Linked DNA regions of Homo sapiens: region 2 is linked to region 1. The links come from fine-mapping of genetic effects on gene expression. A gene starts in region 1. The other region holds a variant in brackets. All regions are shown on one strand. Distances are between the middles of the regions.

The links. PIP is the estimated chance that this variant, and not a neighbour inherited with it, causes the effect.
Region 2: its variant is the best candidate, but not a certain one, in a credible set for the expression of DUSP22 in whole blood (INTERVAL, PIP 0.54).

What each region holds. Positions count from the first base shown.
Region 1 is chr6:291,092-293,816 of GRCh38, forward strand. DUSP22 (dual specificity phosphatase 22) reads left to right here and starts at 1,396. Exons shown (of 7, transcript NM_001286555.3): 1 at 1,396-1,469. The coding sequence starts at 1,449. RefSeq lists enhancers at 359-648, 575-1,075, 1,076-1,576, 1,869-2,128 and silencers at 759-1,778, 2,523-2,679, 2,559-2,618, 2,629-2,688.
Region 2 is chr6:260,982-264,011 of GRCh38, forward strand. No RefSeq gene overlaps it. Among named protein-coding and RNA genes, the nearest start is that of DUSP22, 30 kb to the right of the region's middle. The variant T/C (reference allele first, on the strand shown) is at 1,696.

The DNA of each region.
Region 1 (2,725 bases):
ACAGATAAAAAGAAAGCAAATACATGTATTTCCGATCAATAATACGGAGTAATATGATAGTGACTGGAGGACCAACCTGGAATTGGGTGGTTAGGAAAAGCCTCTTAGGAGAGATGGCATTTGGGCTGATACCTCAGCGATAACAGGCAGGTATGCAGAGAGCTGGGGATCCAGGTGTCTGGATAGAGAGCACAGCCCAGCAAGCCTGACAGGCTCAAGGAACAGACAGGAGACCAGCATGTGTGTAACTCGCTTAGCAAGAAGATAAAATGAAGTCAGCAGGGGTGAGCCAGGGCACGTCAGATTGACGCATGTACTCATTCAGCAAATATTTATTAAGCACCTACTATGTTCAGGACATTGTTGAGGATACATAAATTAAGAAGAAAAACCACTGGCTCAAGGATTCTGTCGCTGGAGAGAAACTTCAGAGTTTAATAACGTTGATAGAACACCCAAAACAATTCTGCTACAGTTTAGAAATTGATCCATTCCAGACAGAACCACAATGCAGACATTAAGGGACACACATCATCTAAGGCCGTGAGGTCTGAGGTCAGAGATCCAGCCATCTGCTCCCCCAGGGTAGGGAGGTCGGGCCTCCCCGGGGTGAGTCACGTAGCCCACCTCTCCCCACCAGGCGAGGCTTCTCGGTCTTGGTGCATGGGGCAGGGCCGCAGGAAATCCCCCAGCCTAAATCTGCCGCACTCAGAAAACCCAGGCAGGGGAGCCCCCAGAGACCAGGCCTCTGATTAGCACCTGATTCACGGAGGCAGCCAAGGCTGGGTAGCGACTGCTGGTAACTGGCCCCCGGAGTCGCCCCAGGGGAAAAGGCCAAAGGGGGATCTGGAGACCCCCGGCCGGGGAGCGGGCTCCGAGACGAGCGCAGCCGCCCGGTCAGGGCAGCGCCTGCGCGTCCGCCAGGCCCCGCCGCGCAGCCTCGGGTGTCCCGGCGGGGCGGCTCGGGCCGCGCACGCGCTCTGGCCTCCGGGGCCGGCCGCCTGGGAGCCCGAGCCTAGTGCCTCCCACGCCCGGCGGCCGCGAGCCGGGGTCCGCGAGGGCGGAGTGGGGCGCGGCAGCCAGGAACCCGACTACGAATCCCAGGGTGCGGGCGGGCGGAGCGAGGAGGGACGCTGGGCCTGCCCGGTGCGCACGGGGGCGGGGACCGGCAAGGCGGGACCATTTCCCGGCATAGGCTCCGGTGCCCCTGCCCGGCTCCCGCCGGGAAGTTCTAGGCCGCCGCACAGAAAGCCCTGCCCTCCACGCCGGGTCTCTGGAGCGCCCTGGGTTGCCCGGCCGGTCCCTGCCGCTGACTTGTTGACACTGCGAGCACTCAGTCCCTCCCGCGCGCCTCCTCCCCGCCCGCCCCGCCGCTCCTCCTCCCTGTAACATGCCATAGTGCGCCTGCGACCACACGGCCGGGGCGCTAGCGTTCGCCTTCAGCCACCATGGGGAATGGGATGAACAAGGTAACGTCTTCCCTCGTTCGCGCTGGGTTTGCCTCCGCTCCGACGCCCTGCCGTCTCGCCGGCGTCGGCTGCCCGACGACTCGAGCCCGGGGTGCCCTTTCCCGCGGTGGGGACGGGCGCGGAGGGAGGGGCGGCGCGCCTGGGCGGCGACCGCGGAGTCGGGGTTCGGAGGTGTTCCCGCCCCCACCCCACCCGGCTTCCGGGTAGGCAGCCCCCAGCCGCCTGCCTTGCCAGCCGGTGCGTTTTCGTGGCTGAAACAAGCCGCGCCCTTTGAAAGCGTTGACACTTGTTCTGCCGAGAGGTCAGCTGAGCTCCGAATGGATGTGGCTTCTTTTTTGCCCTCCTCTTCGCTCCCAAACTACGCTCTTGAAGCCACCACCGCCCCCCCCACATCATTAGTAAACGGGTGTCCTCTGTAATTTCCTCTTTCTCCTCAGATTCTGTGTGTGTGCCTGTGAGCACAGAGAAGTTTTTCTTGTGGACAGAGAAGTTAACAGAGTCCTAAGTCCTGAGCTGTTTCTAGATAGTGGGGAGGAGAGAAAAGATTCAGAGTTGATTAGGTTATGTGACTTCTGCAACAAGGGCAACCTGTTGCTGGCTGCTTGCGCTGATGAGGCCTTCTGGAAAATCTGTGTTGCTCCATTTGTCCCGTCCGTTTCTGGGCCCCACCCTGTGTTCTTTTGTTGCCCGCACCTCACTTCCCGGGCGGTGGGCTAGCCTTTCCCGTCCAGGGAAGTTGCCAGATTCCAGCTCTGGCAGCTGAGAGTTGCCGGGGTGTATTCATGTGAACCACAGGGTTAAGGATTTTGTTACTTGGTACTTGGCTGGTTTCGAGGAAGGATTGACAAGACTTTACAAAGCCCGCAACAAAGACAAGTACCTTTTTACGGGTCTTTGAATGGTCCTGGATTAGATGAGTCGTCTTTCTGCTTCACTTTTTCATTGCGCTCCACCCACCCACATCTCTACATGCCGTCAGCTTCCACACTGGGTGGGGATGGCAATGTGGCTGTGTTTTTTTTCATGTCCCTCAGCACTGGGTCAGCAGTGGTTTGGGTGTTGGGGCTGGAGTGTTGCAAATGCGGATTCACGGTAGGGCAGGGAAAACCTAGCTAACTTTTCACGTGCGCATGTCGTGTTTATTGTGTCCTGGTTACCCAGTTTGTGAAAGAACTATTGTGTGTTTGGGACCTGCATATCAATACTGGGGTATTTTGGTAAAGAGAATTGTATTCACTTTTTTTTTTTTTTTTTTT
Region 2 (3,030 bases), 30 kb before region 1:
TTATATGTTTTGTATTTTTGTTGTTGAGTTCCGGGAGTTATTTATATATTCTGGATATTAATCCCATTCCAGATATATGATTTGCAAATATTTTCTCCCATTCTGTAGTTGTCTTTTACTGTCTTGATAATGTCCTTTGATATACAAATATTTTGATGAAGTCAAATTTATCTACTCTTTCTTTTGTTTCTTGTGCTTTTGGTGTCCTGAAAATCTACTACTGAACTCAAGATTATAACAGCTTATTCCTATGTTGTCTTCTAAGAGTTTTGTTTTAAGACTTTATTATTTTAGAGGAGTTTTAGGTTCACAGCAAAATTAGGTGGAAGATACAAAAATTTCCCATGTGCCTTTTATCCTACGTATGCACAGCCTCCCCCACTATCAAAATATCTCATGAGAGTGGTGCATACAATTAATGAACCTACCTTGACACACCATAATCACCCAAAGTTCGTAGTTTACCTTAGAATTCACACTTTGTGTTGTATATTCTACAGGTTTAAACAAATGTATCCATCATTGCAGTATTATACAGAATCTTTTCACTGCCCTAAAAAAATCTTCTGTGTATTCAAAGATTTTACGATCATTGATCCATGAGTTAACTTTTATATATGATGTGAGGTAAGGGTCCAACTTCATTCTCTTGCATATTGAAATCCAATTGTCTTTGCACTGTTTGTGGAAAAGACTATTACTTCCTCCCTTGAATGAACTTGGCATCTATGTCAAAAATAAATTGGCCATACTGGGCACGGTGGCTCATGCCTGTAATCCCAGCACTTTGGGAGGCTGAAGTGGGCAGATCATGAGGTCAGGAGATTGAGACCATCCTGGCTAACATGGTGAAACCCTGTCTCTACTAAAAATACAAAAAAATTAGCCAAGTGTGGTGGTGGGCGCCTGTAGTCTCAGCTACTTGGGAGGCTGAGGCAGGAGAATGGTGTGAACCCGGGAGGTGGAGCTTGCAGTGAGCTGAGATCATGCCACTGCACTCCAGCCTGGGTGACAGAGCAAGACTCCATCTCAAAAATAAATAAAATAATAAAATAAAATAAAATAAAATAAAATAAAATAAAATAAAATAAATTGGCCATAGATGTATGGGTTTATTTCTGGACTCTCATTCTATTACATTGGTTTATATGTTTATATCTAGGCCAGTACCACATTGTTTTGCTTTTTGTAACTTTGTAAGCTTTGAAATTAGGAAGTGTGACTCCTCCAAATTTGTTTTTCTTTTTAAAGATTGTTTTGACTATTCCAGGGCCCTTGCAATTGCCTATGAATTTGAGGATTGACTTTTTCATTTCTGCAGCAAAGGCTGCTGGAATTGTGAAAGCGATTTTATTGAATCTATGTATTGCTTCAGGTACTATTAACAGCTTAACAGTATTAAGTCTTCTAATCTGTGAACACAAAATGTCTTTCCATTTATTTCTTTAATTTCTTTCTTTAATTTCCTACAGCAAAGTTTTGTAGTTTTCACTGTACAATTCTTTCACCCACTTAGTTACATTTATCTCTAGGTGTTTATTCTTTTAGAAGTTGTTATAAATGGAATTGCTTTAATTTTCTTTTTTGATTGTTTATTGCTGGTATATAGGAACACAACTGAGTTTTTTGTGTTAATCTTGTAGCCTGTGATTTTGCTGGATTTGTATTCCTGTCGACTCTAGAATTTTCTATATA[T/C]AGGATCATGTCCTCACAAATAGAGATAGTACTACTTTTTCCTTTTTCATTTGAATGCCTGTCCTTTCTTTTTCTTGTTTAATTTTTGTGGCTAGAACTTATAATGTTGAATAGAAGGAATGAAAGTGGGCATCCTTGTCTTGTTAGGAGGAAATCTAAAAAATCTTAAAGGAGAAAGCTTCACTATTGAGTATGCTGTTAGCTGTGGGTTTTTTATAATTGCTCTTTATCATATTTAGGCAGTTCCTTTCTATTTCCTAGTTTTCTGGGTTTAAAAAAATCATGAAAGGGGGTTGAAAATGCCTTTTCTGCATCAATTGAGATGAGCATGCATCTTTTCCCCTTGTTATATTAATTTAATTGATCTGTTACATTGATTATTTCAAAATTTTGAGCCACCTTTGCATCCTGGGGTAAATCCTACTGAGTCATGGTGTATAATTATTTTAATGTGTCATTTGATTTGGTTTGCTAGTATTTTGTTGAAGTTTTTGCATCTCTATTCATATGGGATATTGGTCTATACTTTTCTTCTGATGTCTTTTTCTAGTTTGACATCTGGGTTATGATGTCCTTATAATATGAGTTCCCATAAAAAGTATTCCCTCCTCTATTTCAAGGATGGGAGGAAGAGTTTATAGAGAATTGGTGTTAATTCTTTAAATGTTTAGTATAATTTACCAGTGAAGCCATCTGGTCTTGGACATATCTTTGTTAGGAGGTTTTGATTACTGATTCAATCTCCTGTTTTATATTTGTTGAGATTTTCTATTTCTTCATGAGTCACTTCAGGTAATTTGTGTGTTTCCAGAAATTCATCAATTTCATCTAGGTTATCTAATTTGTTGGCATACAGTTGTTCATAGTATTCTCTTATAATTTTTTATTTCTGTAAAATCTGTACTAATACCTCCACTTTCATTTCTTATTTTAGTTATATGTGTCTTCTCTCTTTTTGGTTTGCTGCTTTAGCTGAAGACTTGCCAATTTTGTGGCACTTTTTAACAAGCCAACATTTGGGTTTATTGATTCTTTTTTTTTTTTTTAAACGAAGACTCGCTCCTTCGCCAGGCTGGAGTGCAATGGCATGATCTCGGCTCACTGCAATCTCCACCTCCTGGGTTCAAGTGATTCTCCTGCCTCAGCCTCCCAAGTAGCTGGGACTACAGGTGTATGCCACCAAACGCAGCTAACTTTTATATTTTTAGTAGAGACGGGGTTTCACCATGTTGGCCAGGATGGTCTCGATCTTTTGACCTCGTGATCCACCCGCCTTGGCCTCCCAAAGTGCTGAGACTACAGGCGCAAGCCACCGCACCTGGCCTATTTTTTTCA